Linked DNA regions of Homo sapiens. The protein of the gene in region 1 purifies or fractionates together with the protein of each later gene. This does not show direct contact. Each region holds a gene or a part of one and is shown on either strand. Other genes may lie near its edges.

Region 1 (2,641 bases):
AGCCAGGCTCTGGGGGCAGTGCTGGTGTGGCTCCCCGGAGGACAGGACTGGCTTCCCCGGTGAGCTCAAGCCCGAGCCACACCCTGCCTTGAGCTGCTGTCCCCTCCCCCCACGTCCAGCCTCACGGACTCAGCATCAGTGCTGAGGGCACTGGTGGCTCTGCCCAGTCCCCTCTGGGTGGCAGCTGCGCTTGGTCCCAGGCCTTCCGGTCTTACTTGTGCAGGACCGAGGAGTGGAGCCCTGCCCCCACCCCCGCAACCCCTACAGCCTGAGCTCAGCGGGCGGCTGACCTGCAGGAAGCACCCCGGGACCTTCAGGCCCAGCCTCCAGCACACACCCCCCTGCTAGGCCCCTCCCACTGTTGGCCTGTGGCACCCACCAGGGAGAACTGGGTCCAGGCTGGTTCCCTGTCCTTCCTCCTGCTTCCCACCCAGTCCCTGCACCCAAAAGAGCACCCAGCCAGCACCTCTCACCCCGAGGGACCCCACAGACAGGCGGAGTCACTGGGAACTGCTGAAGCTCTTTATGGAGAACCAGGAGAGGGGGCGCAGGGCAGGGGGAAGGCGGGGGGTGGTAGGAAGGGGTGCAGCCAGCCGCGTTCTGCAGGGGTGGGGAGCTTTTTCCATGTCCCTGTGAATGACGGAGGTGCTGGATGGTGCCGTCCTTGGGCTGCTGAGGAGCCAAGGTGTCCCCTGCCCTGGAAAGGGGGGGAGGGTGAGTGAGGCCAGGACAGCAAGGGTGGGAGGGGGATGCAATGTGGGGGCGCATGTGGGCTCTTGGGTGCTGCAGTGTGGGGGCCCATGTGAGCTCTCAGGGGCATGGTGTGGGGGGCACACGCTGCACTCTTGGGGGCTGTGATGTGGAGGGCACATGCAGGCTCTCGGGGGCTATGGTGTGGGGGGCACAGCAGGCTCTCAGGGGTGATGGTGTGGGGGGCACATGTGGGCTCTCAGGGGCATGGTGTGGGGGGCACATGTGGGCTCTCGGGGGCTATGGTGTGTGGGCACATGTGGGCTCTCGGGGGCTATGGTGGGGGTACACACTGGGCTCTTGAGGGTTACGGTGGAAGGCACATGCGGGCTCTCGGGGGCGATGGTTGCGGGGGCACGTGCTGGATCTCAGAGGCAATGGTGTGGGGGACGTGCACCGGGCTCTAGGGGGCTATGGTGTGGTGGGCACATGCGAGCTCTTGGGGGCGATGGTGTGGGGGGCACACACGGACTCTTGGGGGCTGCAGGTGGGGGCTCCAGCCTCTAGATTGGAGCGGATGGAGCAGGGACCACCCCCGCAGGCTGCTGACAGAGCTCCCTGCTGAGTGAAGTGGCATCAGGGTGACTGCAGGCCAAGGGGAGGGTGCGGGAAGGACAGCGATGCTGTCCAGGATTCTGGCTCTGCCCACACCTGGGCAGGTGACCTTGGGCGAGTCTCCAAACTCTGGTCCCCTTGTGCAGCCAGCAAGGGGCCCATCTGACACAGCGAGCACAGGCACGCCTGCCACTTTGCTGAATCTTTGAGCAACTTATCGGGTAAGTGGAGTCACAGGCATGGCCGAGGGTGAGGGGTGCTGAGGAGGAACCCGAATCTCCTGCCTGCTCCTGCCCATGTGACTGGGGGGTAGACACCGTCTCCACCAGCAGCCAGCAAAGGCGGGCTCAGCGCTGTGGGCTTCCCAGCTGCCCAGGAGTCACACCCAGGGCAAGAACGGAGTCTGACGCCCGAGCGTGGGCAGCTCAGGAGCAGAGCTCCCACCTGCCTGACCTACGTGGGGCATCTCCCACCCAGGTAGGAGTGGGATGGGTGGGAGAGACCCCATGGCCTCTGGAAGCACCACTGAGCCCCAGAACTGGATTTTCTCAAATGTCCTCTAAAGCTGTTCACTCACCCTAATCGCTCCCTGGAGAGCAGGTTTCTGCAGGAAAAGGAAGCACAGGCGTTAGGAGACCCCAGGAATGCAGTCAGGACCGGGGCCCCTCATCAGCCACCAGCTCCACCACCCCAGGAAGGACAAAGCCAGAATTAGACGCAGCACAGTTATGCGCCCGTGCAATGCAGCTCTGCTGATGTCCCCACGCGGGGACATGGGGGGCTCTGCAGGGCCATGCCTCCTACCGCTCTGCCTGGGGATGAGGATGCTCTCCGTGCTGAGTCCGCGGGCTCCTGCGGCTTTCTCAAAGTCCTCCAAGGCTTCCAGGTTGTTCTTGGGGTCTCTGCCTGTGGGTGCCAGGACGAGATGTGGGTGCTCGAGGCAGCACTGGGCCGACGGCACCCCATCCCAGTCTGGAGGCCTGAGCTGGGCTGGGGAAGGGGACCTCGCCCACCGTGGGGGGAATTGAACCCAGAGGCCCTCAGGCTGGCAAAGTGGGACCAGGGTGCCGTGCACGGCTGAGAAGGCTCCTGTGGCAGCAGAACCGGGAGAACGGGAAGGGCTCTCCATCCATCCCTGAGCATCTCCCGGAGTGAGGATGGACGGCACGACAGGCCCACCCTGGAGGAAGCGCCTCTCCCCTTGGGGGCACCAGGATCCCAATCCTCTGTCATTCGCACACCCCTGGCTCCAGGGAGAACTCAGGAGCCTTCATGGGCCTCGTCCTCTGACAGGGACAGCACTGATGAGTCACCATCTGTGGGAGGCACCGCGTCC
Region 2 (7,040 bases), on another chromosome or scaffold:
CCTGATTGCCTAGGCTAGGTGAGCTGCTCCTCCTTTCTATTCTCCCAGCAACATGTGCCTCTTCCATGAAAATAGTCTACTATTTGGTAATTAGCTATGCGAGTCTTCAGGATTTGGTTCCACGTCTTGTCTTTTTCTCTGAAATAGTCACTCTGTTCCTCAAATAAGCTTGCTCCTACCTCAGGGCCTTTGCACTTTCTGTTCTTCTGCCTGCAGTATTTTGACCTCAGACTTCTACATCACTAGTTCCTTCTTTGTCATTAAATTAGTTGTCACATTGGCAGAGAGGCATTTACTGATCACTATGTCTAATGAGGCTTCCTTGGTCTCTCTCTTACATCACCCTTTGTTTGCATCAGAACACTCCCACCTCATAGTCTCCTATCTATCTGATGCTTGGTTGTTGTTGGTGGTGTGTATGTTGTGGTTATTGCCTCCCCAATAGAATGTTAGCTCCTTGGGGACACAGACCCTGTCTTATTCTCTGCTGTATACTAGCTCCTAAAACCCCGGCCAGCACATCGCAGGTCCTCCATAAATTCTTGGCAGATGAATTAATGCTTCATAAATACTCTGTTAAAAGTTGTCTGTTTTGCAGGGCATGGTGGCTTACACCTGTAATCCCAGCACTTTGAGAGGCTGAGGCGGACAGATCACTTGAGTTCAGGAATTTGAGACCAGCCTGACCAACATAGTGAAACCCCATCTCCATTAAAAATACAAAAATTAGCTGGGAAGAGTGGCATGTACCTGTAGCCCCATCTACTCAGGAAGCTGAGGCAGGAGAATCATTTGAACCCAGGAGGAAGAGGTTGCAGTGAGCAGAGATTGTGCCACTGCACTCCAGCCTGGGCAACACAGTGAGACTCCATCTCAAAAAAAAAAAGTTGTCTGTTTCATAGTCAGCGCTTTATAAATCAGACATCAAGACTCAGGGCCTCGATATTTGATTTATGGGGGCGCAGTACAGTTCTTTCAACTGGATCCTCTAAGACACTCCACCCCACCCTGGCCAGGGGCTTCATGCTTCGCCCAGCATGGTCTTTGTAACCTGACAACACCAATTTACTCTCAGAAAAGGCTGTCCTCTTTTCCTCCAACTTCCCCATCCCTGCAAACTGCCGTGTTTGCTCAGGTGCTCAGAGTGTTTTGAAGCTTCCACTCCACGGGCCCCAGAACCCCACGCTGTAGCCAGAGCAGGGTCTCCCCGTTAAAGCATGCAGTAGGCTCCCCCACCAGAGCATGCCTAATAGTGATCCCAGCCGCCATTTATCAGATCCCTACTGCTCTAAGCTCTTCAATTCATCACCTCATTTATTCCTTCAGGGAAGCGGGCACTTCTGGTCTGGTGAATTGCCCATGTTCTACCTCGAATAGTGAAGCTGGGGTGCAAGGCCTGCTCTGTTTGACCCCCTACACTTAATGACTACAATTTCTAGAGCAACTTCAATTCAGTGGCAGCTGCACCCTCCGTGAGATCCAAGGGGCTTTATATACAAGGCCCTTGACCTGTGTATTGTACTTAGCCTACCCACAAACTGTGAGAGGTGGGTATCACTAGCCCCACTTTATAGACAAGAAAACTGGTGCTCAGAGAGGCTTAGTAAATCTCCTGAGGTCACATAGCAATTCGAGGCATAAGCTCAGGCCCATGTGCCTCGCTTGAGGCTGGCAAGGTCGGCTCCCCTGAACCAGGGAGGCTCAGTGGAAAAGTCAGGGAAGCGGACTTGTGTCCCTCCTGTGTCTTTCTCTTCCCCTTGAGTCTGTCAGCTGCGGAGTGGATTACAGTTCCCCACCAGTGAGCCATACAAAGCGGGCAGCTCATGTTTTCTCTGATATCAGTGATGGCTGGGCTGGCCTGTTAGAAGATCAGCAGTGAATTAACCTACTGGGGAGGGGGCGCCTACCACACCATCTAACTCCTGGCCGAAGGCTTCCCACACAGCTTAGCTGCAAAGGTAGGGGACTCACGTTAAGATCTCTTTATCTCAGGCAAAAACAGCATTGGCATCCTTGTCTTTCATCCATTAACTTTATATTGAATGATAATTCTGGTTGATCTGAAGGTAATGAAGTACTCACGATGTTCTGAGCAGTTCTCGTGGATTAACTCATACATATTCACAGAAACTCTACAGCACTGGTGCTGTTGCCATGCCCACTTTACAGATGAGGAAACTGAGTTAAGATTCTAGAGCCTGCCAAGATTCTACAGTGAGTAAGTGGCAAAGCTGGGATTCCTACCAGGCTGTCTGGCTCCAGAGCTACCTTCGTAACTGCTGTGTACTGCCCAGGCCCCTTCAGTCCTCTCATCTCCAGCCTCCAGCTTCTCCCTCCAGGTGGACCCTCCACCTGGTTCTGGAGTAGCCTCCAATCTTTCCCTCCTAGACACTTTCCACGCAGCAGCTGGAGGACCCTTCTGAAATGCAGATCTGACTGCACCTCTGCCCTGTGTCCACTGGCTTCCAGAGGAAGATTGTCCCCATCACCTAGCAGCCCCGGGCTCTCCTAATACCAACAGCTGACATTTGCTAGTGCTCCCTGTGTGCCTGCCCCTGTGCTCAGAACTCTGTGTGTCTTATTGTAAGGGGGTCCTTCTGACAACTCCGTAAGACTGGGACTAATATTCTCCCCATTTATGGATGAGAAAATGGGACACAGAAAGATCATATAGTCTGTCCAAGCTATCCCAGCAAGTACACAGCACCCAGACAGATTGGATGTGAGTTCTGCCCATCCTGGGCTTGACCAAACCACCTGCAATTTCAAAACAAATGCTCCACACACCCCACCCTCCAAGCCTTTGCACAAAGGGTTTCCTCTGACAGGAACATCTTTCTCAACCCACTCATCCACTCCCATCACACTTTGACCTGGCTAATTCTTACTCATTATTCAAAACTCAGCCTCAGTTGCCTCTTCCAGGAAGTCTATCTGGATTAGTTCCCTCCTTTGAGCTCCCACGGCCTCCTATGCTGGCTCCATCACAAAATTACCACTTACCTGTCAGTCCCTTATGGGCAGGTAGGGGGGTCGCTGAGGTGCGAGTGTGTTGTGCTTGAGGATGACAAAGAGGCCAGGGTGCATGAAGGGACGTAAGGGAGAGACTGGGGTGAAAAAGCAAAGAGGTGGGCAGAGGATGGATAATGCCGGCTCTCATAGGCCAAGGGAGAGTTTGCATTTGATCTAAATGTGACTGGAAGACTAAGGAAGTTTGAGTGATTGATGAATGAATGAATGAATGAATGAATGAATGGTGTCCCAGTACCTCATACAGGGCTAGAATGAGAGCAGGAGCTGCACACCAATTAGTTATGAAAATAAACAGGCAATATTTTAAAATTAGGCAATTTTTACATTTAAAAAAATCTCAATTTTCAATTTGTCTTGAAAAAACAAAAGGCCTGGGGACATTGAGCCTGTATTCCAATATGGCAACAGTCACAGAGGAAGAGCCATACTGCCCATCGCCACCCGCGGAACCACCTGGGGCTTCCCTCACTGCCGACTGCCTGACAGACAAGTGAGTCTGCAGCCCCTGAATTACCCACTCTAACTCGGAGAAGCAGCATGGGGTGGAAGGGACACAGCTGTTGAGAAAGGAGAGGTAGGACCTCAAATTCTTTCCTGACCCCGAAGCAGGATCACCAAGTGGTCAGTAAAGTGGGCTCAGGTCTCAGCCCACCACTTACCACCACTTTAGGAAAATGACTTAGCTTTACTGTGCCTCAGTTTTCTCAGCTACAAAATGGGGCTAATAATAATGCTTCAGAGGGTGGACATAGGAACTAAATAAATGATCACATTTGAAGCACCTAGCTTGTGCTTGAAGCACCTGGCACATAGTAGGTGCTTTGGAGAGGGGAGTATGAAGACTCCAGTCTAGTCTTACTTGAGCTGTAGGGGATAGGAAAAGAAGAGGGCAAAAAGGAGAGATCATAAAGAGCTTGGCACACTGCAGAAACAAAAAATGCTGCTGCATGACTCACTGCCGTGGACGGAGGGCCTGCTGGGTGTTGGTCTGGGCTGAATGCCCTTCATCCATGATCCTGTCAACCCAGCAACAGCCACCGATTCTCAGGAGCCTACTGGGTGCCAGGCTGTGCATTACTGCTTTGTACATATTAGCTCCAATCCTCACAGCAGCCCCAGAGGTGCATGTTTTTCTTTTAATATCCATTTTACAGAGGGCCAGACTGAGGCTGAGAAAGGGGAACTTGCTCATCCAAGTTCACCTGGAGTTATGAATGGGGGAGTTGGGCTCCTGTCCAGATCCCTCCGGGTTAAAAGGGGACCCTAGTAGAGACACATTGGCCCTCACAATTTCATAGGTGATCCTATTTCCTTCCTTTTATAGGATAAATACATTACTGAACAATGTCAGATGGGCCCCAGGGGAAGCATTTCGACCTTTCTGATGGGGATTTGCCAAGGAATGGAGCTGGGAAGTCACACATAAGAGAGAGCCCTGCCTGCCTATCATGTCTGATTAGGGATGGGCCAAGGAGGAAAGGAACTTTGCCGATCATCGGGATGAGAAGTGGGAAGCAAGCCCCCTTGGTAAGCGGGAGGCATGATGTCAGTATCTGACCCTGATGGAGGGCCTGCATGGTCTTCTTTCACAGACTTGGCCAAGGACCCGGAGGCCACACAAGGAAAAGTCCTTTGCACTTGGCAGTTTGTGAAGCTTTTTCTCAGCTGCTACCTCGGGTGCTTTGTAATAGCCCAGTAGGGGAAAGAGGGGCTGATGGGGCAGTGGGGTGATTCTCCCCTAACAGGTGGGGTTGTTTCAGACTCACCAGCCTGCCTAATCACATGAGCCAATTCCTTACGTCAATCTCTTTCTGCGGATAGGCACACCTTGTTGGCTCTGCCTCCCTGGAGAACCTTGGCTAATACGACACCCATGCCCCTTTGTTTGCATCTATGTCTGTGGTTGTTTTCATGCTGCAAAAGCTGAGTTAATTGCTGAAACAGAGACTGTAGGGCCAAGAAAGCCCAAAATATTTACTCTCTGGTCCTTTACAGACAAGGTTTGCTGACCGTACTTTGACTGGTTTTATAAACATTTTATGATTCTAATAGTTTTTAAGCTAATTTTCTTGAGTCCTCAGGCACTTGAACATATTCTTAAATAATAAAACATTTTTTATGCCTTGCTAGTGGATGGATCTCTTGCCAGGAGGTCAGGTGGGTTTCCTGATGGAAGAGGCAGGAAGCAACTGGCCCCATTCTTCAGCCCTGAGCCCTTTCTAGTTGCCTGGACTGCTCTCCTGGCAAATACTGAGAGGACCTGGGGAGGCTTGCCTTGGGATTTACCTTTTCCTTGAGAGGGAAAGGCATGGGCTCTGCGGTCATTTGGTGCCACCTCCTCCACAAGCCTCAGTCTTCTCATCTGTGATTGGGGTGTATCATCTTCCTGCACTGAGACAGCACTGCTTAAAGGGCCAGCACAAGGTAGACCCTCTTTTCACCCAGGGCCCAGAGTTCCTTGAAAGGGAATGATCTTTTTGACGTCTTGGCTTCTCGATGATATTTCTATATTGTAGTCAGCTGAGGGCTCAGAGGAGCCGCAAGCGTTTTTATTTAAAAAGCCAGCATGGAATAATAATGGCTTGATTTAACATTGCAATTATCTCTCTGAGCACTTTAGCGCATATGATTACCCCTATTTGATGAAAGAGGAAATGGGAAAAGGTAGAAATGAAGTCACTTGTTTAAGGTCATATCATGAGTCACGAGGGAAATGGAGACAGAACTCCAGCCTCCCACACCTGAACCGTGACTCCCACTAAAGAGATGCCATTGTTTCAATGACCCTGCAATGACAACCATCCTAACAGCCAGCAAGGACTGAGACGCTGTTCTGCACCAGCCCCGTGCACTCCAGGTGCCTCCCGTGGACCCTACGGGGCAGGGGCTAATATTACAGCTTGGGATCCAGATGGGAAGGTGAGGATCAAGTGACAAAGTGCCTCTCCGTGGTCACAGAGCATGGCAGAGTTGGAATTCTCTAAGTCCATCGCATTCCTCATTTAGGGTGTAGCTATGAGAAGGGACAAGCTCTTTGCTGTCCACTTTATCTCAATTATTTCTCTCTTCTCTTGAAGAGAATCCAGTGGGTTGGGAACTATTAGTTCCATTTCCAGATGGGGAAAACAGAGGCTCAGAGTCTAAAAGACTGGGCCAAGACCAAGAAGCAAGGAAACAGCAGAATAAGATTTCAGAGTCAGTCTGCTGACCACGCCACAAACCATCCTGAGGCCTAAATATGTATCGAGTGTCTTTCGGATAACCTCCCAAACTCTCACATTCCTGACGTTGAAACCATTTCAGAAGCTTTTGCCCCACACTCGAAAGTGTAAAGTTCACCCTTGTGGGTCTCCAGGTGGTTGGCAAAGGGAGCCCCTGAACCTGGAAAAGCGGTGCCCCTTGTTAGGTGTTAGCATCGTAACGAAAGACGAATGATCAATGGGAAGGAGGCTCGGGTTCTGAACAGAAAGTAAACCCACACTTTAGCCTGGCAAAGATCAAAGCACAGAATCGGATGAGGGTCCCGTTTGGTGGTCGGCTGCATTTGCTGTGCAGAGACCAGAGGGAAAGACGGCCTTGCAGGCAGTGGTCCTGGTGGGATCATTCACTGCATATTTAAAAGAACGTTTTTCAAGAGCAAGGTTTGGATGGAACCGCCACCCTTTTTGTTATCTGGTGCAATTAAGGGATGGGGAGAAAGGCAAAAAGAGGATAAGCTAGAGAGATATGGAGATGAAGAGACATAGAGAGAGAGATGTAAAAAGAGAGAGTTAGAGATATAGACACAGAGAAAAAGACAGGGGCCCAAAAGAATGGCAGAGGTGAGAACTGCACACACAGAAAAAGAGACCGAGACACCGAGAAAAAGCAGAGAGAGGTGGAGGACCATATGGGAAGAAAAAATAAGATGAGACATAGAGATGGGGAGAGGACAAATGGGAATAGAAGGGAAGGGGGTGAGGAGGAGGGGAAGAAGAGGGAAAAAAGGGAAGGGAAGTGAACACAAT

What was found.
Region 2: the proteins of LCN1 (region 1) and PDYN purify together in Homo sapiens (affinity purification with mass spectrometry; 3 studies listed by BioGRID and IntAct, with this or other methods). This does not show direct contact.

Annotation. Positions count from the first base shown.
Region 1 is NC_000009.12:135,524,400-135,527,040, reverse strand, and holds the end of LCN1 (lipocalin-1 isoform 1 precursor), read right to left. Parts: exon of another isoform or gene 2,539-2,641; coding exon of another isoform or gene 2,212-2,538; coding exon 2,110-2,211; coding exon of another isoform or gene 1,934-2,109; exon of another isoform or gene 1,910-1,933; coding exon 1,884-1,909; coding exon of another isoform or gene 1,883-1,883; intron 698-1,882; coding exon of another isoform or gene 524-697; 3' UTR 501-523; downstream 1-500. UniProt on the Homo sapiens protein: Could play a role in taste reception. Could be necessary for the concentration and delivery of sapid molecules in the gustatory system.
Region 2 is NC_000020.11:1,984,024-1,991,063, forward strand, and holds part of PDYN (proenkephalin-B preproprotein), read right to left. Parts: intron 2,930-7,040; exon of another isoform or gene 2,083-2,929; intron 2,077-2,082; exon of another isoform or gene 1,972-2,076; intron 394-1,971; exon of another isoform or gene 1-393.